Homo sapiens: one gene and its partners. The protein of the gene in region 2 purifies or fractionates together with the protein of the main gene of each other region. This does not show direct contact. Each region holds a gene or a part of one and is shown on either strand. Other genes may lie near its edges.

What was found.
Region 1: the proteins of NUP35 (region 2) and FOSL2 purify together in Homo sapiens (co-immunoprecipitation; one large-scale study listed by IntAct). This does not show direct contact.
Region 3: the proteins of NUP35 (region 2) and AAAS purify together in Homo sapiens (affinity purification with mass spectrometry; one large-scale study listed by BioGRID and IntAct). This does not show direct contact.
Region 4: the proteins of NUP35 (region 2) and CDK14 purify together in Homo sapiens (co-immunoprecipitation; one large-scale study listed by IntAct). This does not show direct contact.
Region 5: the proteins of NUP35 (region 2) and NDC1 purify together in Homo sapiens (affinity purification with mass spectrometry; one large-scale study listed by BioGRID and IntAct). This does not show direct contact.

The regions. Positions count from the first base shown.
Region 1 is NC_000002.12:28,405,021-28,410,985, forward strand, and holds part of FOSL2 (fos-related antigen 2), read left to right. Parts: intron 1-3,738; coding exon 3,739-3,846; intron 3,847-5,452; coding exon of another isoform or gene 5,453-5,555; intron 5,556-5,965.
Region 2 is NC_000002.12:183,157,548-183,163,381, reverse strand, and holds the end of NUP35 (nucleoporin NUP35), read right to left. Parts: intron 5,100-5,834; coding exon 4,971-5,099; intron 3,895-4,970; coding exon 3,730-3,894; intron 2,329-3,729; coding exon 2,251-2,328; 3' UTR 1,702-2,250; downstream 1-1,701. UniProt on the Homo sapiens protein: Functions as a component of the nuclear pore complex (NPC).
Region 3 is NC_000012.12:53,317,261-53,323,904, reverse strand, and holds the start of AAAS (aladin), read left to right. Parts: upstream 1-2,294; 5' UTR 2,295-2,439; coding exon 2,440-2,562; intron 2,563-3,212; coding exon 3,213-3,340; intron 3,341-6,644. UniProt on the Homo sapiens protein: Plays a role in the normal development of the peripheral and central nervous system.
Region 4 is NC_000007.14:90,601,134-90,607,098, forward strand, and holds part of CDK14 (cyclin-dependent kinase 14), read left to right. Parts: intron 1-3,084; coding exon 3,085-3,116; intron 3,117-5,870; exon of another isoform or gene 5,871-5,965. UniProt on the Homo sapiens protein: Serine/threonine-protein kinase involved in the control of the eukaryotic cell cycle, whose activity is controlled by an associated cyclin.
Region 5 is NC_000001.11:53,794,332-53,800,296, forward strand, and holds part of NDC1 (nucleoporin NDC1), read right to left. Parts: intron 2,814-5,965; coding exon 2,568-2,813; intron 2,474-2,567; coding exon 2,358-2,473; intron 1-2,357. UniProt on the Homo sapiens protein: Component of the nuclear pore complex (NPC), which plays a key role in de novo assembly and insertion of NPC in the nuclear envelope.

The DNA of each region.
Region 1 (5,965 bases), about 150 Mb from region 2:
TTTGAGAAAGAATTAACCTGGCTGGGGAGGGAAGCCAGAAAATGGGGAAGGGGGGGCTCTGCTATTTAGGCAGCACCTACCTAGTACTCAAGAGGCTCATTGCCTGGATCAGCAGTAAGCCAGGGCAGTGCCAAGTTCCCTGGTCTTGGAAAGGGAAATCAGAATCATGCATAATTCCAGAAAGAATGGGATAAAGCCTCAGAGAGCCCCACCTCTCCCCCATGTCAGATGATACAAGCAAGGGCCAGACATACCTGTGTGTGGCCACTCGGCCAGTGAGTGGGGAAGTCTGGGCTAGATCCCAGTTCCCTGGACCCCCTATGCAGTATTCTTTCTCCAGGGCTATGCCACCCTGAGCCCAGGGAAGGGAAAAATACTTTAGCAGTGGAATCCCTTTTTCAAATGAATTGTTATCCTGGGAAACTATTTCAGTGACAGCCTTGGAACCCTTCCTCATTTCAACCACTGTCCATCTTCACTCTGTGATCCCCAGGGCCACAATGTTCCAATATACGGACCTTTCAAACATGGTTCCCAGTGGATCAGGGTAGATCCAGACCCCAGGATACTTGGAATTACAGGGATCACCACACCAAGAAACTGGAAGCTTTCTCAGGAGCTCTGCTCCTGCGAGGACAAAGCTGGGTCTTGTATCCACTACTTGTTGGTTTGTTCTGTTAATGGCAGAACCACGGTGCAGAGCCACTTGGGGAGGTGTGTCTGCTAGACACTATAATGGATTCACAGCTGCATGTTGGGCCTCTGCTGCTGGAGCAAGTGGCCAGTATCCTCCTCACAGTTGCTTTCTATAATTGCAGTTGTAAATATTGCAGTAGCCATGCTTGTAAGGACTTTTATAAATAGGCTTCCTTCACGGAATCCAAGGTGCAAAGCCTTATACTCACTGATGAGCTGGACTCTTCTGGGATATAAGTGATCCTGAGTGAGAGCCAGGCTTGCCAGGTACTCTTTGGGGCTAGCAGGACCACAAAGCCTGAGGATGTGCTGAATGCTCTCCATTCCCTTTTTTTTTTTTTTTTTTTTTTTCTTTTTGAGATGGAGTCCTGCTCTATCACTCAGGCTAGAATGCAGTGGCACGATCTCGGCTCACTACAACCTCCTCCACCTCCGCGGTTCAAGCAATTCTCCTGCCTCAGCCTCCTGAGTAGCTGGGATTACAGGCATGCACCACCATGCCTGGCTAATTTTTTTTGTACTTTTAGTAGAGATGGAATTTTGCCATGTTGGCTAGGCTGGTCTCGAACTCCTGACCTCAGGTGATCCACCCGCCTCAGCTTCTCAAAGTGTTGGGATTACAGGCGTGAGCCACCGCGCCCGGCCACGCTCTCCATTCTCTTCTGGGCCTACCTCACACCAAATTTAGAAATTTGTATCCAGAGGGACTTTGGAGACCATCTTTTCTCATTTTCCCTTTATACCCATTTTACAGACAAGGAAACGGAGACCCAGAAAGGTGAAGGGCCCTGTTAGAGTCTCACAGTGAATTAGTAGCAGAGCCAGCACTGGAACCCACTTCTCCTGACCTTTGGCCCTGTGGTTTTCCCACCACACCACCTAGGCGTGCCTCATACAATCTGTCTGGAGAGTTTCCTTCCTTTTTTGAGAGGGAGGGAGAGAACAAGGAGCATTGTATCCCACATCAGTTGGGAATTCACACATCTCCCAGCAGCTTTAAGGAAGCCTGGGCAGTGGCAGCCTAGAACTTTGGCTGTTCAGGTTGCCAGCCCTCAGGGCTTTGCTCTGAAGCTTACTCCGGCCGTCCCCAGCCTCCCCCAGCCTCCCTGCTAGGGAGGAGCCTGCCTCCGGAGCCGGCCTGGTGCCTCATAGGCCTCCTCTTGGGAGGTTCCCTCTGTGCCCTGTGGCGGCGACTCTGAGGAGGTGGGGAGGGGAGGGTGTGTGTGGCTTGTGGGTGGGTACATGGTGCTGCTGACACACTCAAGCTGGAACCATGTTGATCTCACCGCCCCTGAACACTTCCTATGTTGACAGCTCCCACAAGTTGCCCCACACCTCACCAGTCAGGGGAGAGACTTCTAGGTCAGTCAGGAGGCCAAAAGTTGTCCAGAAGCAGCCAAGGGGGAAGGAGGGCTTGAACTGGGTCAAGGCCAGCCTCCTTCTTTTCTGCCTCTCATTAGCGAGGGATCTAGGGGGCTTCCTGGGCCTTAAGGGGAGCCCTGGTGGCCCTTTCAGTGGTGAGCCCTAAACCCAGGCCTGCAGCAGGGCCATAAGGCTTTCTTGGCAATTCTGCTGGGCTCAAGACAAGACAGGTTTAGGAGCAGGAAGTATTCAGGGCCTTGGCCAAATGGCCTCATGACCTCAGCCGGGCTGTGGACTTCCCTCTGTGTGACAGGCATGGGATTGTCCTCTCTGGTGCTGTGATGATTGTCCTCTCTTTGCTGTTCAAAACATCACAGCAACAGACCTCCAGGGCTAAAGGGAGCATTGTGGGACTCTGACTTGGACCCAACCAGGACAGTGGCTCTTTCCTTCATGGGGTGACCTGAAGTCCAGGCAGTATCCCTCCTTGGGGTAGCTTCTCCCTGCTCCTCCAAAAGTAGCTTTGATTTTGCCCCCAGGTGTCCCGTGAGAGCTGACCCAGGTCTTATTCCCCTTGAGATCTTCTAAGCTCCTAGTGTAGCACCGGGCAGTTAGTAGGTGTGCAGTCAACGTCTGATAACTGAATGGGTGGGCTTTCCCTTTGTGTTGCTTTCTGCTTTGGCCCACAGCCGTCTCCTTGTGTCACCTCTGCCTGAGAGAGGCATTGGGGTCACAGCTCTGCAGGGCTCTGTAGAACCAGAGCATTTGCCCTGCTCAGTAGAGCAGAGTTCATGCTTTCCGGTATGAGTGACAGATTCCTAACTGTCTCACTGGAAGAAGCTAGATCCTAAGCTCTTTGCAGGGGAATCTTCCTTTGTTTGGTTCGCAGATAAATCCCAAGCCCGTAGAACTTCATCTTGCACATGGAACCAGGTGCTCACTTGTTGAGTGGACAGATATGGTGGGCAGCAGGATTTTACCTGCTGGGGGCTCCTCTTCCTTTTGCATGTCCTGTCCAACTTAGCACTGTACCAGGCATGTGGGGGAGTACCTGGGGTTGAACCGTGAGCAGCTGGCACCCTGGGATTGGCAGAGGAAATCGGGAGTGGAGTGGCACTCTTGGCCCTCCCATCAGCAACATAACATTCCCCCCTGGGTGGTTCTTAACCTGTGTGGGGACTCCAGGCCCAGCTACTTAACAAAATGGGGATAATGAGGCTTGCAGAGCAGGCAGAGTGATGGGAGGAGAAATTAGCCAGGGTTTGGAAGAAGCTGCTTAAGTGGGTGGGGCCACGCCTGGCTGGCAGGAGGGGACTCTTGGAGAAGCATCCCCAGCTCCTTCTCTCTGGCCTGAGCACTGAATCAGGGCTGATGTGATAGGTGCTGCCATCATGCCTGGGCCAGTGAATCTCTGACCCATTGCTGTCCTGTTTAAACATGGACTTTAAACTTGGACATCACCTTCCGGGGCAGATTCAGCTCAAAAGAGCCCTCCCAGGCAGCCAGACATCAGGGATCCACATGTTCTGGGGCCTCTGAGTCCAGCCATGCTCCTCTTGCCCTTCCTTCTCCTTTCTCCATTTCCAGAAGGGCTTCTTGCCTTACTTAAAATACAGTTTTTAAAAAATACTGTGAACCATTGTCTCTGTTCTAACCATGATCCTTGGCTTTGGCCTCTAGCTGTCTCCTGAAGAGGAGGAGAAGCGTCGCATCCGGCGGGAGAGGAACAAGCTGGCTGCAGCCAAGTGCCGGAACCGACGCCGGGAGCTGACAGAGAAGCTGCAGGCGGTGAGGAACTCTGCGTAGGGTGGGAGCACCTCTGGGTGGGCTGGAGTGAGAGCCCCGGGGGTCCTGATCCTCTCTCCCACAGCTGTCTCCTTACCCACAAATGCCCTACAGATGAGTCAGTGGAGATAGAGCTTTCCTTCCTTTGGACACATGGGTCAGCATTGTGTTGATTGAAAAGAGAGAGAGAGAGGGAGGTGGCGTTTAGCACCAGCCAGGGCCCAGAGGGAAGAAATGAACAACCTTCTGTGGGGGTGCTAGCCACGGTTTTTACGCAGCACCTGAGTGTTCTCTGCTCACAGAACTGTGGGGGCTCCTGGGTGAGGGATGATGGAGGGTGGGAGCCAGGGCAGGTCCAGACCTGCCCCATCCAGGGCTGCTTCCCGAGGTTCCAGCCACTCCCATGCCTGCCGCCATCAGGAGTGGCCCAGCCTGGCCTAAGCACTCTGGGTTGGGCCAGGGAGAAGTCTTGATGGAGATAGGTCACGTGGCAGCAGGGTTGTATTTTCTTGGGGTTTTCTCATTTCCTTTATGGGCAGGCGGGTTCCCCACCTCTATCATGAACTCAGAGCTGTGGCCATGGTACCGCGTGCTGCTCTTGTGAGTCACTCTCCCGTGCCGCCTAATTGCCCAGACCTGGGGACCCGCAGCCCTGCCCTTCCCTCTGTTAAGCTTGACCTGACCAACGTCACGTAACTCCCTTCAGAGCCTGGCCCTGCAGGAAGGGCCGTGTGCTGTGTGGAGGAAGCCCCGAGCCAGGGTTGACTCTCCCCAGTGGAATGCTTTCAGAGTGAGGAGATGAGAGAGACTCTGTCAGTGGTCCTCACAGTGACTGCCCAGGATGGGGCTTTGGAAAACATCCCCTCACACTTTTTTTGTTATTATAATTTTTTTGAGATGGAGTTTCGCTCTTGTCGCCCAGGCTGGAGTGCAGTGGGACGATCTCAGCTCACTGCAACCTCTGCCTCTTGGGTTCAAGCCATTCTCCTGCCTCAGCCTCCCAACTAGCGGGGATTACAGGTGCCTGCCACCATGCCCGGCTAATTTTTGTATTTTTAATAGAGACAGGGTTTCACCATGTTGGCTAGGCTGGTCTCGAACTCCTGACCTCGGGTGATCTGCCTGCCTTGGCCTCTCAGAGTGCTGGGATTACAGGCGTGAGCCACCACGCCTGGCCCATCCCCTCACTTGAGTTAATGTTTCCAGGTACCATCCACCCACTTAGGCTTGTCTTTCTCTGTCCTGCAGCCCTCACTCTGGGGTGTTGAATGAATTGAATTGCGTGAATTCTGTGATGCCTGTAGTAATGGCCCTCGGAGGTGTTAGAGCCGGGGAGGATGAGTGGGAATTCTTCATTCCCAGGTGAGGCAGATCCACAATCCACTTCCTCAGCGGGCCCTCCCACCACTAACCTTTCTGTGATTGGCACTTCAAGGAGCTGTGCCCCATGTGGCGCTCCTCACCACCCGCCCCGGAATAGCCCTGCCCCCTGAGGCTCCTCTACTTTCCTTCCCTCCTCCCAGAGGCCTCACACCCTACTCCCCTGCCTCCCCCACCTCCCCCGCCCTCTGACCCAGCCACCCAGGCCCCTGAGCCACATCCTCCACAGGAAGCCTCTCAGAAGCTCATGACGTTCGTCAGACCCTTGAGACAGACGGAAACTGTTTTTCACTCCGGAATATGCTGTCCTCTGCTGAACGAAGCCCTTGCCCGTATGTCCTCACTGATGAACAGGAATCCATGTTAGGGAAAACGTGGGGAGGAGGCTGGTGACACACACCTCTTCCCCTCCCACAGCGGCCCCTCCACGTGCACTTGCTCGCTTCTGCTTCTCTGGCTGGGGATGAAAGAAGGGGGCTGAGGTCCTTGCGGGGTGACCCTGGCATCCTCACAGGCCCTCTCGGGCTGTCACGTTACTTCTGTGTCAAGCGTGGTGGCTGAACCAAATGTTCTCTGAGGGTTCTGGGAGTCCTGAAATATGTGCTTAAGAAATTGGAGCAAAAGGCCAGGCGCCGTGGCTCATGCCTGTAATCCCAGCACTTTGGGAGGCTGAGGCGGGTGGATCACCTGAGGTCAGAAGTTCAAGACCAGCCTGGTCGATGTGGTGAAACCCCATCTCTAT
Region 2 (5,834 bases):
ATTCTAGTCTTAATTTATGAGTGATTTTCCTCTATTACTAACATTTTCCCAAGTTCTTCAATTTTATTTTTGTTGTTCTTTCATATCTTGTATCATTTTCTAAATGTCTTAAAACTCAATTTTAAGTACTACTCTATAGCTTCTATCCATTTATGGGCATGCCTTTCTGGTGTGCTTTCAATGTCTACAGGGATGTTATTTTCTTCCTTATACTCTTTTTTTTTTTTAAACAAACTTGCATGATTATAGTTTCACGTTATTTTTTTTGAAGTCAGCTTCTCTGAGCTTTTAAAAGGAGGCTTAGTTCAGGGTAACTTTCCTAACATCACAGATATTCCATTTTTGTTGTTTTTATATAGTGTTCAAAAATAGGACAGCTCGCTTTCTGAAATTTTCCTGGATCTTTTAAAATAAATGACAGATACAAAGATGGGTAAGATATGATACCAAGAGAAATAACAAAATATAGCAAACAAATATTTTTTGCCCAAAAGCAAACTTCACAGTCCATAAAGGCCTATGCAAATAAATAAAACACCCCCTCCAATAAACAACCCTTTTAATAAAATGTGTATTAATTCAAATACAAATGCACGACTTTTAAAATGGAATTTAGTAGCCAGTTCTATATTGAATAATTGAGTTCTGCACATTATGAAATAGGATATAAAATATAATCCTAAACTGGAAGAAAAAGACTTCAATGTAAAAGTTTTCAGATGAAAATATACTTTATAAATGAATCTTCATTCATGCCAGTACATTCCTTAGTATTACTTAGTAATACTTCCCAGCTCTTTAGGAGGCCGTGGTAGGTGAATCACTTGAGTTCAAGAGTTCAATATCAACCTGGCCAACATGGTGAAATCCCGTCTCTACTAAAAATACAAAAATTAGCCAGGCATGGTGGCACACGCCTGTAGTCCCAGCTAATTGGGAAGCTGAGGCACAAGAATCACTTGAGCCCAGGAAGTAGAGGCTGCAGGGAGCCAAGATCGCACCACTGCACTCCAGTATGGGTGACACAGCAAGACTCTGTCTCAAAAAAAAAAAAAAAAGGTATTAATTATGTTCAATGGGATACTGACATTGTAATTCCATGTAGAAATATTCTTTTTTGATATATCCTCACGTATTTAGAGTAAAATGACATCTTATCTGGGATGTGCTTTAAACAAAATAAAAGGGAAAGAAAAGAAACAAGTATGGCAAAATTTAATGGTAATTAAAGCTGGTATATAGTGGTTCATACATATTTTCTCTTTCAATGAATACTTAAAGCTTTTTATAATAAATCACCCTTTCAAAAAATGTTCAATACATATTGATATCATTTGGATATCTGTCCCCTTCAAATCTCATGTTGAAATATGGTCCCCGATGTTGGAAGTGGGGACTAGTGGGAGATGTTTAGATCATGGGGGCAGATCCCTCATGAATGGCTTGGTGTCCTCCCTGCAGTAATGAGTTCATGTGAGATCTGGTTATTAAAAAGAGTCTAGAACTTCCTTCTTCCTGCTCTCTTCCTCTCTTTCACCATGTGATATGCTCACTCTTCTTTACTTTCCTCCACAAGTAAAGCATCATGCTTCTTGTACAGCTACAAGCCAATTAAACCCTGAGCCAAATAAACCTCTTATTTTTAATAAATTATCCTGCCTCAGGTACTCCTTTATAGCAATGCAAACAGACTAATACACATATCATTGACAATGTTTATTATCAAGAAACTTTAGGTTTTTTAAAAGAATGCTCGTTTTAGAATACACCAAGAGGACACTCTGTGACAGGACATATACAAACAAGGATAATTAAAATATTAAATACTATCTAAATTAAAAGACCATAATTCAAATTGCTAATTATAATATTTGTGTCGGTAGAAATAACTATAGTTCCCCTTCATGAAATTCACCCCCACGTTCTCATGAAGACTATGACGTCTCACCACAATTTCAGTTATTTAATTTACAATAATCAATGCTGAGTTTTCTGTGCTGAAGCATGCACTGTTACAGAAAGCACAAAATCCTATTTACAGGGATTTTTAGTTTTCTTTAAAATGTATCTCAAGCATCTTTTAAAGTGCGAGCTACAAATAGGTTGTATCCTTAATGAAAAAGGCTTCTTTCTAAAAGAAGTATGAGATAGCTATCCAATACTGCAGGAACAGTTATATAACTAACCGAAGGAACCAGCAGCACTCTGCTAACTCTGTTTTAGTGTAGCAACCTCCTTCTTGGTGTTCTACTACCAGCCAAACATGTACTCCATTGCTTTGGATACAAGACTTTCATCTTTTTTTGGCGTTTGTCTGTCAGAAATAACCTATTAAAAAACACACACAAAAAAAACGGTTAGGTTATTGTTACTTCAGTGTCATAGGCAATTCTAGAATTGCTCATTTAAAAGAGAAACACCAAAATGCATTTATAGCACTAAATTGTAAATTTTTGTATTTTTAGTAGAGACGGGGTTTCACCGTGTTAGCCAGGATGGTCTCGATCTCCTGACCTCGTGATCCGCCCGCCTCGGCCTGCCAAAGTGCTGGGATTACAGGCATGAGCCCCTGCGCCCGGCCTGAATTGTATATTTTTAAAATTAAAATATGGACTTAGAATATCCTTATGCTTTTAAGAATGCCAAAATTTTATTCCTTTGGCAAAGCAAATAACATCTGTTTCTTAAATTAGAAAATTGAATAGCTGGGCGCAGTGGCTCAGGTCTGTAATCCCAGCACTTTGGGAGGCCAAGGTGGGCAGATTACTTGAGGTCAAAAGTTTGAGACCACCCTGGCCAACATGGTCCCATCTCTACTAAAAATACAAAAAATTAGCTGGGCGTGGTGGCACGTGCCTGTAATCTACTCAGGAGGCTGAGGCAGGAGAATCACCTGAACCCAGGAGGCAGAGGTTGCAGTGAGCTGGGATAGCACCACTGTACTCCAGCCTAGGTAACAGAGAGACATTCCGTCTCAAAACAAAAGAAAGAAAAATTGAATAACAAAAGCTGCACTGAATGGGAAATTTAAAATAACAGTAATAGAACCTAAAGAAAAAAACAGTTCTAGAATAATCTCCAAATTTCAGAGGAAGTCAAAAAACTGAACTACCACTATCTGCCCTACTAAAGCACAAGTGTTTCATGTACTGTGTGTTTCAGGACCTGTTTCTGCAGCTGGTTAAGTTCGAACACTTGGCTAGTCAGTAGGAGACAATAATATACTGAATGAGATCATAATACTTCTACCATTCTTCAAAGAACATAATTAACTTCTTTAAGCTTTTTTGAAGTGAGAAATTTTTTTCTGTCTGGAGGTTGGTCAATGTCTTCATTTAAATAACCAAAGCTACTCCAACCTAAGGTTCTGCACTTTGGATACCATCAATTTAGTCATCAATTTAATAAAGTTTTAATGCGCCCTCATGTCAAAGATGCACACAGGATACATTTCGTATGTATGCAAATATAACTTAGAAAAAGCTAAAACAACTTTCAAAAAATTTAAAGGAATGGCAAATAATTTTTTTTTTTTAATTCATGATAACTTTCCAATTGGCCAAGATGTTAACTTTAAAGCAGAAAACTTTTAAAGCGTAAAGGTTTCATCAAGGTAATAGCCTCCACAGGAAACATTTAATGGCATACAAATCAATACAATGAAAAAGTTAAGCATGCTATGCACTCAGCCATTAAAGTACATCTTTTTTTATCCAATCCTTAAAATACCTGATAATCACTAGTAGAGGCTTTGTATGCTGTAGCAAGAGGTCTCATGGTAGAAATCCTAGGAGTACTTCCAGGTTGTGTTGGTGTACCTAGAGTTTTGATTGGTGGTGTAAAGGCTAAAGATGGAGATGATAAAGCACATCTGTCACTGCTTTCCATAACACTCTGGAGAAACAAAGAAATAACTCCTTTGTTTATAAACATAATACATATCATCCAGTATTACATCCTACTTAGAAAATTTAATTAAAAGATAAAGATGAAATACTTTATTTGCTCTAATTAAACTTGCAAATAATTTTAGGCTTGAGAAAATATTTGCTTCTTAGGTAGCATTTGAGATTGAATGCTCAGACAGAAATCTCACTTCAGTGACCTCAAACAATCTCAATACAACTATAGACCACAAAAATAAGAATTTCCTAAAACACTATGAAAAATCAGCAAGGACAAAAAAATTCTTAGGGAAACCTGGATTGGAAAGAATCAAACTCCAGTGCTATTTAGCACTTAGTTACCCCAAATATTCTTCTGGCCTCTGCAAACATTTGTTACAGCACAGTATTATAACTATATAACTACACTGATATAACAGATTTTAAGAATAGGAACCACATCTTGCTTTGTTCATTAATGTGTGTATACTAGCACCAAGCACAATGCCTGGAATGTAGTACAAGTTCACATATACTTAAAGAATGTTCACAATGATTTAACAAGCCACAAAGAACAGTTTAAATTGTACTCTGTACTATTTAATGAGTATATATAGAATAATTTTAAAATAGTTTTAAACAGAAATATTTTGAAACGAAAACCTTTGACATTTAAAAGTTAACTATCAGTTAATGTTAATATGAACTAATTCATTCTGAAATAGTACCATTCCATTTAAGTACTTTAAAGAATCTGGTATCGCTTTGCACAAGAAAGAGAATGGATTAGTAGTCAAGAGACCTAAAATCTAGGCCTCACCTTTAACAACTCTGGACAAGTTACTTAAGCCCTCTCAGTTTCTTTATCTGAAAAATGAAGAGGTGAGGACAGATTACCTCTAAATTCTAAACTCTATGATTAAATACCTTCGGCTTACCACAAAGAGTACTATAAACATCATCACATTTTACAAACTAAGAAAAACAGACACAGTGAAACCAAGTGACACAACGACCAATTTCAATCCTTGGTCTTGTGCTCTTCATATAGATTAAGCTACTTTGCCTACATCACCAATAACTTACTTTGTCAATACATGGTTTTACACCAATCATGATGGATTCTCCAAAAATCCTCCCATCTTTGCTTAAGGCTTTCCGAGCCTGCAGTTTAGATTGATAACGAATATGCATCCAATTTCCTGTATTAGACATCTGCAAAGAATAAAACTGTCTCTTAAAATAGAAAATATATAAAATCTACATCTAATGAATTCTACTAGAAAATAGGAACATGGTAAGATAAATTTACTTCCATTCCGTATTTGATGCCTTGTAAAAAGCTGTAAAGTTCAACAAAAATCGTATTTAGAACAGCTTCAACAATCTCTCAATTCTCTACAATCAACATGTACATATTCTCTGAAAGTAAGATACTTCTCAAAATATGTTTATTGTAAAGAGATCAAAGCAACACTTGCCATAAAGTTATTTAAAACTACTCAATTTGATTTTGTATAGGAGTTAAGTCAATCTCTAGCAACAAAAAAGGATTTGTTACTTATAACTTGTAGCACAAGGTAAGATAATTTTTTAAATTTTAGAGCTATAAAGCTCTAAAAACTCTAAAAGCTCAGGAACTGCCTCCTACTTCTTTTATCCCCAATAAAAGCAGCTCAAATTGGAAAACAGTAATATAATACTTGGCATAATCTATCTTTTTTAAGACTGTAAACTGTTTAAGAAAGGAGGTGAGAGGAGGTGGATTTTCAAACTCTCAATTCTCCATATCTTCTCACTATATCTCTTTTTATCAAAAATTAGGCAACTTCCAGCCTTCCAGACTTCAAAGGATGTATTATATCAAAACTCAAAAAAAAATTTAAGTTTAAAAAAAACCCACAAAATTCAGAAGCAGTTTCTCTCAATTCACAACTTATCCCTCTTTAG
Region 3 (6,644 bases), on a different chromosome or scaffold from region 2:
CTAGATTAGAGGAGATCCACTTGCCTTCTCAGGTGAAGTGCATTTTCAGGAGACTCTGGAGCCCTTTGTTTTCTGACCTGGTAATAACTCTCTTGGGGGGAATTTTTCAGGTGAAAAAGAAGGGCAGACACGGAATCCAGAATACTAGAACTAAATGCCCCCTAGATTATTCAATGAGACTGGTAGCTCTTGGGAGTGGGGACAGCCTTCTACATCTTCAAATCACTTAACATTTGTTAATGAACTCTGACCAAGGTCACCTAGTTGATGGCACAGTTATAGCTATTAACCTCTGACATTTGTTTAGCACTTTAAAATTTATTAAATAGCTTCATTTTATTATTTTGTATGGAAAACAACCATATGAAATAATTAGGACACTGCAAATGAGAAAAGTGAGACTCAAAGAATTCAATGTTTTTTCCAAAGTCTGTAAGAGGGGCCCCCATTCTCTTTCTTTCTTTCCTTTCTTTCTCCCTCTCCCTTCCCTCCCATTTTTTTTTGTTTTGTTTTGTTTTTTGTTTTTTTTTTTTTTTGAGACGGAGTTTCGCTCTTGTTGCCCAGGTTGGATGGAGTGCAGTGGCGCGATCTCTGCTCACTGCAACCTCCGCCTTCCAGGTTCAAGGGATTCTCCTGCCTCAGCCTCCCGAGTAGCTGGGATTACAGGCATGCACCACAATGCCTGGCTGGTTTTGTATTTTTTAGTAGAGATGGGGTTTCTCCATGTTGGTCAGGCTGGTCTCGAAATCCCGACCTCAGGGGATCAGCCCACCTCAGCTTCCCAAAGTGCTGGGATTACAGGCGTGAGCCACCGCGCCCGGCTCTTTCTCTCTGGCTTGCTTGACAGGGTCTCGCTCTTTGACCCAGGCTGGAGTGCAGTGGTGCTATCTTGGATCATTGTAGTCTGGATTCTCCTATCTCAGCCTTCTGAGTAGCTGGACTAAAGACGCTTGCCACCACCACGCTGGCTAACTTTTGAATTTTTTGTAGATACAGGGTCTTGCTATTTTGCCCAAGCTGGTCTTGAACTCCTGGGCTCAAGAGATCAGCCTCGGCCTCCCAAAGTGCTGGGATTACAGGTGTGAGCTACCACACCCAGCCTTACTTTTATTCTTAAGTGAGAATAACTGGTTTGGGTGTATCTAGGTCCAATCTCTCTGTGACTCACTTTCCTCATGGTGACAGAACAGCACCCACCTTATGGGGTTGTAAAGATTATAAAAGCACTTATCGTAACAAGTGCTCAGGAAATAGTTTTGCAGCCCGGCAAGGTGGCTCAGGCCTGTAATCCCAGCAATTTGGGAGGCCAAAGCAGGCAGATCACTTGAGGTCAGGAGTTTGAGACCAGCCTGGCCAACATGGTAAAACCTCGTCTCTACTAAAAATACAAACTTAGCTGGGCGTGGTGAAGCATGCCTGTAATCCCAGCTACTCCAGAGGTTGAGGCAGGATAATCGCTTGAACCGGGGAGGCAGAGGTTGCAGTGAGCTGAGATAGCACCACTGCCTTCATCCTGGGCAATAGAGCGAGACCCTGTCTCTCAAAAAAATAAAATAAAATAAAGTTTTCCTTTTTGAGACGAAGTTTCCCTCTTGTTACCCAGGCTGGAGTGCAATGGTGCGATCTTGGCTCACTGCAACCTCCCCCTCCGGAGTTCAAGAGATTCTCCTGCCTCAGCCTCCCGATTAGCTGGGATTACAGGTGCCCGCCACCACGCCCGACTAATTTTTGTATTTTTAGTATAGATGGGGTTTTCAGCATGTTGGCCAGGCTAGTCTGCGAACTCCTTTCAGATGATCCACCCACCTCGACCTCCCAAAGTGCTGGGATTACAGGCGTGAGCCACCGCGCCTGGCAGGAAATGTTAGTTTTCCAACCGTCCCCACCTCCCTTTCCAGGACGCCTAACCGTGTGGGTGCAGCACTGTTCCTCCTCTCTGAGGCTTTTCCCTCAGCTTTCCAGCCAGCTGCCTGTGACATAGCCTGTATTTTCCTCTGGGTGATCCACAGGCCTGGGAGGATTAATTTGGTACTTCCCTGAATGTGGCTTATTTCGGGCTTTCTAAGCGCTAAGATAGTGAGTGGGAGAAGGTGTTCGGGAATTCGGAGCTGGGAAAAACAGTAGTCTCATGGAAAACAACAGAAAAAAACCCCACTCCAGCCTGGTAACCAACGGTTGGCCGGGGGACGTGTCCGCGCTGCTCCCCCTCCGGCCGCCAGGGGGCGCAGGAAGAAGCTTTGGAGGTCTGTCCCGGGACCGCGTACTCGTCCTTCTTTCCCGTTAGTCTTTTCTTCACTTCCGTTGAGTTCCGCCTCGCCGTTTGTCCCTTGCGGTACCCGTCCGCATACGAATCTAGCCCGGGAACCGAGTTGCGGGAGTGCGGTCTGTGCCGTTCCGGCCAGGAGTTTGCCGACTGCAGACGTCCTGCGAACCGGCAAGATGTGCTCTCTGGGGTTGTTCCCTCCTCCACCGCCTCGGGGTCAAGTCACCCTATATGAGCACAATAACGAGCTGGTGACGGGCAGTAGCTATGAGAGCCCGCCCCCCGACTTCCGGGGCCAGGTGGCCAGGGCGAGGAGGGAGGGGACCTACAGGCATGGGGGCGGAGTCGGGGACTACTGGGGAAAGGAGGCAGTGTGACAGGGGCAGGGTCACAGAGTCTGGCGGAGTGGAAACAGCTTGGCCCCGGCAGGAGGCTAGAAGGGCTGGAATCTGTTTTAGGACTGGGATTGGAGTATAACGGGGGAACGGTTAAGGAGCTGTGGAGGAGGCCTAGAGGGAATGGAGAGAATGAGGGAGAATCTAGGGAGTGTGAGGATGCGGGAGAACTATCTAAAAGTTGGGGACAGTATCTGGGGAGGATCAGAAGGATACAACATGGAACTTTTTTCCATGGTGTTCCTGGGAAGGACAAGGAAGGGAAACTGACATTTATTGAGCGTTTGCTATGTAAGAAAGAGGCTGAGTCAGGTGTTTTCTAAAAATGTCATATGGTTTCATAATCACAGCAACCCTATGAAATATTATTCTAGTTGCACAGATACGGGAGCTAAGACTTGTTTCCCATTCTCACAAGTGTTAGCTTTGTGGAAATGGGAAACAGACCTCTGGAATCTCTTATACTTAGCCCAGCGGTGGGTTGGAGATGGCACGGAATTAAAGATTTGGGAAGAGACTGAATCACCGTCACACTCCTCACTTTTGTGCTATAGTGGATCAATCTTCCTGTCCTACAACTGACAAAGGATCCCCTAAAGACCCCTGGAAGGCTGGACCATGGCACAAGAACTGCCTTCATCCATCACCGGGAGCAAGTGTGGAAGAGATGCATCAACATTTGGTGAGGCATGGCAAAGGGTTTCCTGGGTCACAGTCTGCAGATCCTGGAAAATGAGTCAACACCCCTTTACCTTGGGGTGTTCTTCAAAAGACTTTTATTCAGGCTGTCTCCACGAGAGCTGTATATCCTAAATCATATGAAATTTTTAGTCCTTATTATAGAACTCAAATGCTCAATAAATGTCAGGTTCCCTTCCTTGCCCTTCCCAGGAACACTATGGAAAAAGTACTTCCATTTCATCTCTAGTAACTTGCCTTGCTTTCTGGCTTGATTAGGTGAACCTGCTCCCTGCCCCCACCTCATGGCATTACCACTTCTGAGCTTTTACCTGAAGCTCAGCAAGATCAGATATAAGGTTGCACTGAATAATCTCCTACATAGGTCATCCACTTTGCACTTGTAGGAGTGGAGCTACACTACCTGGTTTCATTTTCTTTTTTTTTTTTGAGATGGAGTTTCACTCTTGTTGCCCAGGCTGGAGTGCAGTGGCGTGCTCAGCTCACTGCAACTTCCACCTCCCAGGTTCAAGCGATTCTTCTGCCTCAGTCTCCCGAGTAGCTAGGATTACAGGCATGTGCCACCACGCCCAGCTAATTTTGTATTTTTAGTAGAGACAGGGTTTCTCCATGTTGGTCAGGCTGGTCTTGAACTTCCGACCTCAGATGATGTGCCCGCCTTGGCCTCCCAAAGTGCTGGGATTACAGGCGTGAGCCACCGCGCCCGGCTCATTTTCTTTTTCTTTTTTTTTTTTTTTTTTTTTTTGAGACGGAGTCTTGCTGTGTTGCCAGGCTGGAGTGCAGAGGTGCGATCTCGGCTCACTGCAGCCTCCGCCTCTCTGGTTCAAGCAGTTCCCCTGCCTCAGCCTCCCGAGTAGCTGGTACTATAGGCATGTGCCACCACGCCCAGCTAACTTTTTGTATTTTAGTAGAGATGAGATTTCACCATGTTGGCCAGGGTGGTCTGGCCTCCTGACCTCAGGCCTGCCTTGGCCTCCCAAAGTGCTGAGATTACAGCTACTGCACCTGGACCTATTAATGGCACATATTAATTCCTTTAAGGGTTATTTATGCCAGGCACAGTGACTCACGCCTATAATCCCAGCGCTTTGGTAGGCTGAGGCCAGCAGATTGCTTGAGCTTAGTAGTTTGAGACTAGCCTGGGGAACATGGCGAAACCATGTTCTTTTCTCTACAAGAAAAGTACAAAAATTAGCTGGGTATGGTGGCATGCACCTTTATTCCCAGCTACTTGGGAGGCTTATGTATAGGAGGATCACTTGAGCCTGGGAGGTGGAGGTTGTAGTGAGCCAAGATTGTGCCAGTGCAGTGGCACTGAGTGAGACCTTGTCTCAAAAAAAAAAAAAGGGTTACTTAATATTTTTATTAATACCATTACCATTTGTAGGATAAATTCCTAGAAATTAAGTTGCTGGCTCAGAGGGTATGTTCATCTGTAATTTTGTGAGCTGTTCCAAATAGCCCTCTGTCAAAATGGTACATGTATATGGTCCCACCAGCAGTGTATGGGAGTGCCTGTTTTCCAACACATGTGCTGTCAAGCTTTGATCTTTGGTACTTCAGTACAGTTTAATGGGCATGCCTGTGTGTGTGAAGTTGAATATCAGTTTGTTGAAAAGCCATTCATTCCCAGGCTCCTTGTCTCCTACTTCTGTGGCTGCTGCTTCTCAGGGTTTTTGGTGGCTCCTCTTCCTGATGTCCCTTAAATGTTGGTGTTCTTGGGGCTAGATTTCCAGTTGATGCATCAGACCTGGTGTTCACGTGTTTGCCAAATTATCCTGCTTGAATATTTCGCAGACTTCATATATTCAGCATGCTCAAATCCAGTCTCTTTATTTCTCTCTCCAAATCTGCTTCTCTGGATGGTTCACTTTAAGGAATGATCATATTACTCATTCAGGAAAAAGTGGTTTGAGTATAGGTTCTGGGGTAGATAGATGGTTGAATCCTGACTGCTACTTTCTACTTAGATTACCTTGTTCATATTAATTAGCCTCTTCACACCTTTGTTCTCTCATCTAAAAATGCAGTGATAGTCTGGGCGCGGAAGCTCATGCCTGTAATCCCAGCACTTTGGGAGGCCAAGGCGGGTGTATCACTTGAGGTCAGGAGTTCGAGACCAGCCTGGCCAATGTGGTGAAACTCCGTGTGTAATCCTAATTACTCAGGAGGCTGAGGTGCAAGAATTGCTTGCACCCAGGAGGTAGAGGTTGCAGTGAGCCGAGTTCACACCACTGCACTCCAGCCTGGGTGACAGAGTGAGACTCCGTCTTAACACACACACACACACACACACACACACGCACACACACACACACACACACTGAAACCCCATCTCTACAAAAAATTTAAAAATTAGCTGGGCATGATGGTGTGCACCCGTAGTCTCAGCTCCTCGGGAGGCCGAGGCAAGAATACCTGAGCTCAGGAGATTGAGGCTGCAGCGAGCCGTGATGGTGATATTGCACTCCAGCCTGGGTCACAGAGCAAGACCCTGTCTCAATAAAATAAAAATAAATGCAGTGATAACAATACCTATCTTGTAGGATTGTCATAATGGCTTGATTAGTTAATGTGAGGCACCTAGTCCAGAGCTGGCACATTGTAAGCATATTAGCTGATGTAATTATTACCTAGGTGTTTCTGTTGTATTGCTCTTTCCTTTACTAATGTCTGATTAGTCTTCACATCTTGTTTATGCTAATTCCTAAATCTCTCAAATCTGTCTCTTTTTCTTCATCCCCACCAGTTCAGGCCACTTTCACCTTTTTCCTAGGTTCCTGAAGTAGATTCTTTTTTTTTTTTTGAGACAGAGTCTCACTTTGTCACCCAGGCTGGAGTGCAGTGGCGTGATCTCAGCTCGCTGCAACCTCCGCCTCCTGGGTTCAAGCAATTCTTCTGCCTCAGCCTCTGAGTAGCTGGGACTACAGGTGCACACCACCACGCCTGGTTAATTTTTGTTTTGTTTTATTTTTTTGGTTTTTTTTTTTTGAGACGGAGTCTCGCTCTGTTGCCCAGGCTGGAGTGCAGTGGCACGATCTCGGCTCACTGCAAGCTTCGCCTCCCGAGTTCACTCCATTCTCGTGCCTCAGCCTCCCGAGTAGCTGGGACTACAGGCGCCCACCACCACACCTGGCTAATTTTTTGTATTTTTAGTAGAGATGGGGTTTCACCGTGTTAGCCAGGATGGTCTTGATCTCTTGACCTTGTGATCCGCCCGCCTCAGCCTCCCAAAGTGCTGGGATTACAGGTGTGAGCCACCGCACCTGGCCAATTTTTGTATTTTT
Region 4 (5,965 bases), on a different chromosome or scaffold from region 2:
ATAGAATATCTGCTGATCTTAAATATTTTGATATATGCCCCTTGGCTATTCCAGAATAATGTAATATGCTTGTTACTCCATGAAATCCTTAAAGATAATTGTGGATTTACATTTACATGAATGATTAATGGCAATCAGGGAATGTAATCAATAATGAGATCTTGTGTTCTTGTTTGGGTCAGAATTTACTCATCAGTGACCTGATGAACATCTGGCAAAGACATCTTAAGTTGGTCTTTGTTGTCACTGTTAACTGCTGTTCAGGACAAGGACTCAATATTTAGAAGAAACCGTGTAAGGTGTCAGTCTAGCAGTGAATGACTTCAGTGAAGTAATGGTGTTCTGTGGTACCTTGAGCTTGAGAGTATTGTGCAGATGAGATAATCTGGCTTCCTGTTCATTATGTCATAGCAAATACACTTGCAGTTTCTTCTATTTTCTCCTCTTGATACCTCCAGACCCCACCTCTTTGTCCAGAATGTTGGAGAATTGTCAGGACTTAGGAGATAAGAAGGAAATAGTCCAGTTTGGTTGTTCAAGGAATTCCAGTTTTCTGCTGTCTTCATTTCTCAACTTGAGGGTCTTCATTCCATATTTGCAGTTCCCTAAGGGATAGTATCTTTTTTTTTGGCGGCAGAGGAACAGGGTCTCACTCTGTCGCCCAGGCTGGAGTGCAGTGGCGCAATCTTGCTCACTGCAACCTCTGCCTCCCAGGCTCAAGTGATCCTCCCACCTCAGCCTCCCGAATAGCTGGAACCACAGGGCACCACCACCACGCTTGGCTAATTTTATGTATGTATGTATGTATGTATGTATGTATGTATGTATGTATGTATGTATGTGGTATTGTTTTTGTAGAGACAGGGATTCCCCCTGTTGCCCAGGCTGGTCTCAAACTCCTGAGCTCTGGCGACCCATCCGCCTCAGCCTTCCAAAGTGCTGGGATTACAGGTGTGAGCCACTGCACCTGGTGGGGTAGTGTCAACTGTAGTTCTTATTGGATGCTTTGCTTAAGAAAACACATGGCTAAATTTCCAGAACTTTTATAATGTCCAAAATAAAGACAGTATATTTAAAAGTTTGTGCCGTGAATTGTAAGTTTGCTGCTGTAGCTTTGCATCTTGCATGGCAGCCACATAGTGCGCGTGTTCCATTAATCTTTGTTAAATGAGCTAGGTATGAGGCTGTATGGCAATTTGCTTATGTTAGACTTTGTATTTGAAATCAATGGGCTATTAATTTCTTATTCCTAAAAGTTTAGTTTTTCAGATGAAGCAACTTGTCTCTATTTAGAATTACATTACTAATGTTTTGTAAAGGACTCATTAGTCAAAGTATGTTAATTAAAGGACACGCCTTGGGTTGAGGGAGTAGACAGTATGGTAATATTGTTGACTGGTATTTATACAGAGCCTTGTAGCCTAGAAGTTAAATTCTAGTGAAAATGCAGTCATTAGGAATTAGCTAGGATCTTAATATGGTTCTATCAAAACAGATTATTTTAGATTTAATGTAGGTTATTTTAGTTTTAATGTAGGTTAAGTTAAATACATAATTAAAACATGTGCAAGTAATTGAATGCAAGATAAGCCATTCACAACAAAGGACTATCTTTTTATTTTCCATTCACTTTCAGAAGAAATGGTTATCCAATAAAGAAAGATTAGTTTATTAGGCAAAAGGGAAAAATAAGAAACTTTTAGAAACGTTTTATTTCCCTCAGCCTACCTGCATCCCCCTTAACTCACCGCAATCACATTCTTCTTGAAAACACAAATATATGAAACAGAGAAAATAACCTTTTCACGATTGTTAGAGTATGTATCCTAAGCTTTTCTATGATAGCTTCAGTTTAGGCACATTACTTTTCTCAGAGCTTAATTGCCAGAATAATTTGCTTTTCATTGCTTTTGTCAGAACAAAGCTTTCCAATAGCTACCCAAGTGCTTCTATCCAGACTAAATCATGTATAAAGCAGCAAACACCTATGCATTGTTCCGTAAATTTGAAACATTTCTCCAGCTAGTAGTTTCAGATAAATTAGCTATTTAATGCATTCTTCTTAATATGAAACATTCTAAGTAATTGTAAAATGTAAGGAACTAGATGTTTGCCAACTGTAGGTGAAATTCTTCTTCTATGTTGGGTGAAAAAATTCCAGTTCTAAAGCTATGAACAGTCACGCATACTTGATGGTGGTCCCGCAAGTTTACAATACTGTATTTTTACTGTACATTTTTCTATGTTTAGATACACAAATACTTGCCATTGTGTTACAGTTGCCTATAGTATTTGGTACAGTAACATGCTGTATAGGTTTGTAGCCCAGGAGTAATAGGCTATACCATATAGCCTAGGTGTGTAGTAGGTGATACCATCTAGGTTTGTATAAGTACACTCTGTGACATTTGCACAATGAAATTGCCTAAGGGTGCATTTCTGAGAATGTATCCCAGTTGTTAAGTGACACATGTCTGGATTTAAAGTAAATTTGAAGTATTTTCTGGTTCCTATAAAATATTCTGAATGTATTGTTTTCTTTTGAAATACTTTGTTATAAAATTTATCATGTCGAAATGTTTAAATTATGTCTCTTACTCTGCAATGCTTGTTTTAGCAGGCTTAGTCTTTCATCAACACACTTACACTTCACTTAGTATGAAAATGTCATTCAGGGCTCTGTGCAAAGAAGGTGTCATCCTAACAATTGGTGATATCTTCTCAAAACCCAGGAGTTTAAGGGGAAATTTCTTTAAGATTACTTCGTGATTCTTTTATACTTTCATTGAAACATGTTCCAACTAAAGAAGAGATAGGGAACAGTTATGTGTGCTTCTTTCTAATATCTGGGAGGATAGTTCTATTTGCATATTTATAAAAAATATTTCAAAAGATGCATGCTGTGCAATTCTCTTTCATTTGCAGTTTTCATATTTGTATCATAACATTGTTATTCAGGTTGGGGTACAATTTACTTTCTGAAATGAAAACACCATACTGCCTTGTTTTTTTTTCTGTTTTCTATAACTTAGTCTCTTTGGAATTTTTCACAATAACTGTTTCCTTTTCCTTCTTATTTTATAGCTTTGAAGAAAGATGACACCACCTTTGATGAGGTAGGTTAAATTTCTTTATCTAATGTTAGATGTATTTAATGACTACCAGGTAAAGTCAGTAGCTGCCAACTTTGTACCTGGAAACAAAAAAAATGCCTTTAAAACGCGAGATAACATCTGTTTATTTCATTGCATTATTATATTTTCAAATTTTAAATAATCGTTCAAATGAGTTTTGGTAGCAAGTAACAGAAATATGTCTTTTTCAATTAATAAATGAGCTAATTAGAAGACACATGCAGGCCTTTGTGTTGTTGCCTTCTTGCTAGTGGTAGTGCTTGAGACACGCAGAGTGATGTACGTGCTTAAGGCAAGTCTGGAGCTGTTGGTAAGTTGGGCACCATGGCTCACCATGGCTCCTTGCAGACCTCAGCTGAATCAGGGTGTGATGTGTTGTCGATGCCACATATTGTCTGTCAGTCTCCCAAGGGAGGAGCTGACTTTTCCTGTTCTAGTTTTCCTATTCTTTGTATATCAGATCCGTCTTGATCTACTTGCCACAAAGTAGTGTAAAATACTGTTCAAGTAAGGCAGAGAGTTCATATGTAATTAAATAGCATCCTGAATGTGATTTTAAAATTGCAGTCATTCCTGAATTTTTGTAGTATAAGTAGGAATCACCAGAGAAATAGTGAATGTTTACAAAATATTTTCACAGTGCCAAAGAGTGAAATGTTTCATTGTAACCATCCTGAGCCACACTCATTGATCTGTGTTGTAAACTGGGCCACATGTGTATATAGATTGTGTTTTTATATAGGAACATGGGTGTTATCTATACAGTGTGCTTACCCTAAAGCCTGATGAAAGCATAAATCAGTTTGGTTTGGTGGTTTGGTTTGTTTTAATAGTTACATATTCCATGAAATATGCTACCTGTCTTCCCTCTGCTGCAGTGCTTCAGTGAGGAAAGGGCATTTGTGCTCATGGAAAGTCCCCTTGGCCATGTGGCTGGCTGTGGTGCATGGCAGGTCTGCTCAGAGAGAACCTGCTCCAGGCTGGGATTTCTGGATGGGGCCACCGTCATTTGGCTGTCACGGTCTGCTGCTTCATCTGCTGCACCTGTTCTCTTTTTCCTGGGCTGAGCTTTACAAAGCTGTGTGTCCCTGGACTCCAAAGCAACTTTCCCTGCCAGCATTCCTGTGACATCCTCTAAAAAACTTAATTCTTCTAGGCTTGAAGCAATAGAGGAGTCTTTTCTTCTTCCTTCATAGTGGGCAATAATGGAGTTTTCCTCTAAACATGTATTTCTGGAATTTCGGTAGTGTTGTTATTGAGATATTTTTCAGGAGAGTGTTTTCTTTCTTTTCAGGAGCAATCAATATGAGAATATTTGGTACCATTTTTCTCTTTGTAAAGAAAGTTTCCCCTCTAATTATGTAGATAATTTAAGCTTACATAAAAAGAGAGAAATAAGGAAAAGGAGAAAGAAAAAATCTCATAAATCCTGTTACCCCGATACAACAACTGTTGAATGTTCTTGCTTCTTTCTCCGTGTTTTAAAAAAAGCAGCCCATTATTATATCCCGCTTTTTTCTTTGATATGATAACATTATATTTTCCCATGTTTTTACAAACTCTTCCTAATCATCATTAGGCATTTCGAAAACCTTTTTTCTTGCTTAAACACTGTTGTTAGTGATTAGCTTTAAAAAGCACCTGAGGCTGGAGCCCAGCTGAAGGTTAAAGATGTGTCAAACCTGTAACTACTCCCTCTCTCTGTTATTCTGAAACCTCTGTATAGTCAAAGGTCTGGAGTTTGTAATTTGGGTCAAAATCATCCTTAGCTTTTGCAAAGTGGCTTCCTTCCTCTGCCACAAGAGATTGTAAACTATCACAAATCAGTAAATCACAGAATGCTCTACTTGGAAGATCCATTGGAAATAATAATTTTCCCACTCCATCATTACACAGATGAAGAAATTGAGATCCAGAAGGGGCAAGTCATTTCCAGCTAATGAAGGAAAGACTCAAGGCCAGAAAATCTTGGGAGATAGTGGTAATGAAGGCATGCCGGGGTATAATCCCCAATTCAACTACCCTCTGTTTGGGCATTTGACTTATTAATTTCATATCCTTTGTAAAATAGAGATAATAATAGTATCTTTCCTTTAAGGGTTAAGATAATTAAATAAGGTAATGCATATGAAGGTTTCAGAATAATGGCTCACAAAAAGTGAATAGCTCATAATTGGTGTTATCATCTTCATTGCCTTCATCATCACCATCATCATCGTCATTGATGCTTTCACTTTGACATCCACCTTCTGTAGTTGGAAGGGCTACAGAGTAGATAGAAGGATTAAAAATGAAGAATTACAGCTATGAGGAGAGTTAATTTCAGATATTCCTCTAACATTTCACCTAAAGCTTCATGTGATGACTTGCATATTAAAACTGAGAAAATATTATCTAAAACCCACCATTGTTTAGATTCCGTATGGGGGTGATTGGATTCACTTTTTAATCCCTGAGTGTGTTGCTCGTAGTTAACTTTCAGTACGTATCTATTGAATGTGAGTAAATATCTATTGTAGAGGAGTAGAGAGAGTGATGAATTAGGTGTTAGGCAATGTGGATTCTCATCTGCCACTTTCTAGTTATTTGGGCAGGTCGTTTAACTTACCCCGGCCATGACATTCTCATTTGTAAAATCAGTTGAACTATGATCTTCAAGTTGCCTCTTAGCTCTAAATGTAGGATTCTAAATAATGTAACAACCAACATAAGATTACAATTTTTTTTCATGTTTTATGTCAGACAGGTAATGTACTGACCTTGTAGTAAGGTTTGAGGGAGGCACATCTTACACATGAGGTGAAACCCCAATCATCACGCTTATGAACTAT
Region 5 (5,965 bases), on a different chromosome or scaffold from region 2:
TAAAAGCTAACCCAACTAACTTAAAAGTGAATCTGCTCCTACCATACTCTCACCCAAAGCTGCATGACTAGTCAGAAGGCTGCAGCAAGCAGCACGTGTCTGGTTGGGTAGAAAGTGACACGGCAGTACTAATGGCATATAGAGCCGTATGGGATCCCGAAGTTTATGAAATGCCTTTAACCATTCATTCCCTATTAATCAGTCATTCCATCAGCAAACATGTTATAATTTCTCCCATCTTAAAAAATAAAAACATGACTGGGCGTGGTGGCTCGCGCCTGTAATTCCAACACTTTATGAGGCTCAGGCAGGATGACTGCTTGAGGCCAAGAGTTTGAGATCAGCCTGGGCAACATAGAGACTGTGTCTCTACAAAAAATAAAAATTAAAAAAATTAGGCAGGCATGGTGGCAGGCACCTGTAGTCCCAGCTACTCAGGAGGCTGAGGTGGGAGGATCACTTGAGCCCGGGAGTTCAAGGCTGCAGTGTAGCCATGATCATACCACTGCACTCCAGCCTGAGCAACAGACAGACCAAGAACCCATCTCAAAATTTTTAAAAAAGTTCCTTGACCCCTCAATTCCTCCCAGCTATTGCCCCATTTTTCTGTTCCACTTACAACAAATTCCTTGAAAAATGTGGTTTTTCTTGTGGTCTCCAATTCGTCTACCAATCTCTCCTGAACTCATGCATTTTTTTGTCCCCACTACTCCAGCCAACAGCTCTTGTCAAGGACTCAGTGACCTCCGCATTTCTAGCTCAACAGTTAATTCTTAGTTCCCGCCCCATGCTACCCATCAGCAGCATCTGACACTCCCACCTTCTCCTCCTTGAAACTCTTTCTTTTCTTGGATTTCTACCCACCTCAGTCTCTGTTGCTATTCTTTATCTCCCAAACTTTTAGCCATTGGAGGGCCCCTTTCTTGGATATCTCTTTTCTTCTGTATTTACATTCAAGAGTTTGCATCGAGTCTCATGCTTTGAATACTATCTATACTCTGAAAACTTCCAAAGTTACATTTCTAGCCCAGAACTTTCCCCTACACTACCGCTATATGCCTAATTTCTTACTAAGTATTTTCACCTGGTTGTCTCATAGGTATCTCAAAATTGGCTTGTCCAAAATCAAACTCCTGATTTCCCTCCCCTCACCTCTATCAAATCTCCTTCTCCAGAATCATCAGTAAATTCCAACTCAATAAATTGCAACTATATTATTCCAGATCTTCAGGCCAAAAACCTTACCAGTGAACACTGACTCTTTCTAGTATACACCACAACCAAACCATAAGCTAATCCTATTCCATCTAACTTAAAATACATACCTAGACCTTGACCACATCTTACAGCCCCCACCACTACCACTCTGGTCCCAGATACCACCATCTCCCACTAGATTACTTAACACCTTAACACCGTCTCTGGGCTTACATGCCTACCTTGCAAGAGTTTAGTCCCAACACAGCCCCTAGAGCAGCACTTTCAAAATATAAGTTACATCATATCATTCTTGTGGGCAAGACCATACGGTGACTTTCCATCCCACTCAGAGATGAAGCCAGTCTTTACTACAGCCAATGAGCCCTGGGTGCCTGCTACCTTTCTGATCTTATCACCCACTTACCACTCTCCCCTCACTCACTCTGCTCCAGCCACACTGGTATCCACATTGTTCTTCACACAAGCCAAGGCCATTCCCATCTCAGATGCACTGGGCTGCTCCCAGCTCTCCCTTCAGGTCTCTGATCAATCATTGCCTTATCAATGAGACTTCCCCTTATCACTCCACATAAAATGATACCCTCTCCCTTAGGAACTCTCTGTCTTCCTTGCTCTGTTTTTCTAGTTAAGACTTATATCAAATTTCTTCCTTCTTATGCATGTTTTCCATATCTTGAATATGACCTGTTGAGATGCATCTTACAGTCAATAGCACGTCATGGGTTAAGGCATCTTTTTTCTTAATAGCACATAAGTCTTATAATTAATGATATTTTATATTTCAGAGAAACAGAATATAATACATTTGCTTACTCACTGATTTCCCCTCACTCGAATGTAAATATTACATGGGCAAGGACTCTGTTTTGTTTGCTTTTTTCCCAGTGCCTAAAAGCACACCTTGGATATATAAAGAACTCAAATATTTCTTACATGAAGTTATCAGGTCAAGTCATATGAAATTACAATGTGTATAGCTCAAACCAGTCAAATATTGGCTGTTTCATTTGAGTCAATACACGAAGCATAAAAAAAAAAAAAAAAAAGCTTCTTATTCCTGATGACTTACTCATGTGAGATCCTTAATGTTCTCAATTTTACATGCAAATATAAATCCTATAACCATATCATCCTACCTGTTCACGTTTATTCTGAATCCATGAATAAATCACACTGGGTTGTCTCATTGTCTTACCCTCAGCACTAATAGAGGTAGATGGAGAAGGATTAGAAAATTCAGTCATTTGCTGATCTATTTTTAAAAAAGAAAAGGCAAGATAAGAACTTAGGCTGTCTGATCCTCTGCAACATGACATTTAAAATCTTAAAAAATATATAATTCTCACCAGAAGCTGATGTCCACAATCTTGGCCCCCTTCTTATTAGCTGAGGACTTTGCGGTGACCCATAGCAGGTGTTTACATCAAAAATTCCAGCCATCCGATTCATTACACTAGAGCCAAATGGGGTCCCAAATGGGCTCACAACATCAGGTGTAGATAATTTTGAAGAAAACAGTGATGTTTTAACTAATGGTGGCACTGAAGGCCGAGGCATCTGGCTAGATTTTGGTGTCTGAAAAGCAGTTTCTTCTGTAAAACAACAGATCCAGTGCTGAAGAGGCAACCTGATCCAAGCAGGCTAGCAGCAACGCTTTCAAATTCTACACATACCAAATTTTTGTTTAACGCATTTACCCAAAGCTCAGTAGATTGTTTCCATTTATGATTATAGTCTCAAGATTCGATTTTACTACTGCATTCAAGCTCCACTCAAAGAGCTTTATACATCTTCTTCTGTCAGATCGATATAGTCTCTCTTTTTCCCCCCCCATGAATATCTTCATCTTCAACGTCAATTTATCTAACTCTAAGCAATTTTGAATGAACTCATCAATTCACATTTTATTTCTAATTGGCAATTTTAATTACTGCATTAGAATCTATCCAGTTTTACTGCATTACTATTTTAAGTATTACTTGACTGAACATACCAAATCTATATTGTGAACATATACAGGAAAAAAATATTAACCTTACCCCATTTTCCCCAGTTTTTTCCTTTCCTTTTCTTTTTCTTTCCTTTTCTTTTCTTTGAGTCAGGATCTTGCTCTGTAGCCCAGATTGGAGTGCAGTGGTGTAATCTCGGCTCACTGCAGCCTCAACTTCTGGGGCTCCAGCGATCCTCCCACCTCAGCTTCCTGAGTAGCTAGGACACAGGCACATACTACCATGCCTGGCTAATTTTTTTATTTTTTGTAGAGACAGATTCGCCATGTTTCCCAGGTTGGTCTTGAACTCCTGGGCTCAAGTAATCCTCCTGCACTGGCCTCCCAAAGTGCTAGAATTATAGGCATGAGCCACCACACCTGGCCTGAAAGTTCTTTCAAGTTAACAAAAGTCACACCAAAGGCTAATTTGCCCAGAATATCTATAAATCTGATCTGTAAACAGCTTTTTCAAAAGTCATCTTATGACTCTCCAATTTAGTAATAGAGTCTGTTATACAAAAACAAAAGGAACTTTTCTTGTCACTCCAGCACAAGCCACAAAAACAAACACATTGCATTAGGATTCCATCTTCTTTTTATTATTATTATTATTATTATTATTATTATTATTATTATTATTATTTTGAGATAGAGTCTCACTCTGTGGCCAGGCTGGAGTGCTATGGCGCAATCTTGGCTCACTGCAACCTCCGACTCCCTGGTTCAAGTGAAATCTCCTGCCTCAGCCTCCCGAGTAGCTAGGATAACAGGCATGCACAACCACATCCAGCTAATTTTTGTATTTTTAGTAGAGACAGGGTTTCACCATGTTGGCCAGATGGTTTTGACCTCCTGACCTCATGATCCGCCCACCTCGGCCTCCCAAAATGCTGGAATTACAGATGTGAGCCACCTCGCCCAGCTGGATTCCATCTTCTTAATAAAACCACCATAAGAAATATAAGAAATTAAACATCCCAAGTACCAAATTTTCATTATATGACTTTTCTTTTTTTTTTTTTTTCTCCTTAAGAAGGAGTCTCACTCTGTCACCCAGACTGGAGTGCAGTGGCATGATCTCAGCTCACTGCAACCTCCACCTCCCGAGTTCAAGCAATTCTCCTGCCTCAGCCTCCTGAGTTGCTGGGACTATAAGTGTGCAACACCACAGCCAGCTAATTTTTATATTTTTAGTAAAGACGGCGTTTCGCCATATTGGCCAGGCTGGTCTCAAACTCCTGACCTCAAATGATCCACCTGCTTCGGCCTCCCAAAGTGCTGGAATTACAGGTGTAAGCCACCACACCTGGCCCATTATATGACTTTTTAAAGGTTAATGGAAATTAGAAATCTTTGAAAAATCAATTTAAAAATTAAGACTGGAGTTTTTAAGAGTTTTACAATTATTCTTCAAAATATGAGACAAATTTTGGCTGAGTGATGGTATATGACAAAAACTTACAATAATGAATGCTCCATATTTGGTCAGACTCATGATCTACCCAACCCAGAATTACAATGATCTTTCCAACGCTAATTTGATGGAACTAGCCTATTCAAAATTCTCCAATGGCTCCATATCTCTATAGAATAAAATCTAAACTTTTTTTGTTGCAAACAAGGCTTCCTTTCATTATCAAACATCATCTTATCCAGTCGGACTCCTTTTGGACAGATTTCCTTTTGGCAGTTATATTGTATCATTATTTGTGTGCCTTCCACTAAAAGGTCAGATCCAAGAGTGTTTTCCATCTGTGATTCCCTGGCTTCTAGCACATTGTTTGGTATGCAGTAGGAATTCAATAAGTATTTGTTGAATAGAGGAATGCTGATCTGAAAGCTGATAACATCTGAAACACTCTCAAACCTTTCAAAATCTGATGTGTGTTAATTTATTTAAATCATTTTTCATATGTAATCTATTTGTTTTGGGGCTATGACCCCACCAGAGTACTGATTTTGAAACTAGATGAGTTTGCTTTGATCTATATAGTGATTTTTAAATATCAAGATTAGTTGCCAATGTTTAACAACTGAAAGATTTCACCTCAAAATTTGTTTAGATTTCAGGCTTCTCTTTTTTAAAAAGACCGGAAGTTCACATATGGGATCCAAAGTCCCATATGGGAACAATGAAGCAGGGCTAACCAACAGCTTCCCCCTTCAGAGGAAGCCTGTGCTCACAGGTTCACCACCATCCTCACCCAGCCAGTTTCATCCATTTTCACTAAATGCCTGGCTCCAAAACACATGGAACATTAAGTCCTTTTATCAGTCTTACATTCATAGGTGTCTTCTACCTAAGGGATTTGGTGAACAAGACAGGTTCCTCCACCTCTACTTCTTCCTCTCAGCTTTTGTCTTTTAAATGGAAGGGGTACTAACATTATGCCCCACTTCCAAATCACCCAGTCGTCTCAGCTGCTCTTCTCTGGGACAGCAACTTTTTGTCTCTGGACTACTGCAACCAGAACAGCAACAGATATTGTCTGCAAAAATTCACCTGGCTTTGTGCTAGAGTAAGCTGAAGTCTCCTATTTAATAGCCATCATTTTGGTAGTGTTTTTAATGCTACCACCACACTGAACTTAATTTGTTTCAAATTAACCAATGAAAAACTGCATATACTTAGAGTGTACAACGTGATGTTTTGGGCTTAATTTTTTCAATCTACAATGATACCCACGTCATTTTCTTGGTTCAATATAAGATGCTATATGTTGGATCAATTTTCCCTAAAAATATACACCTCAC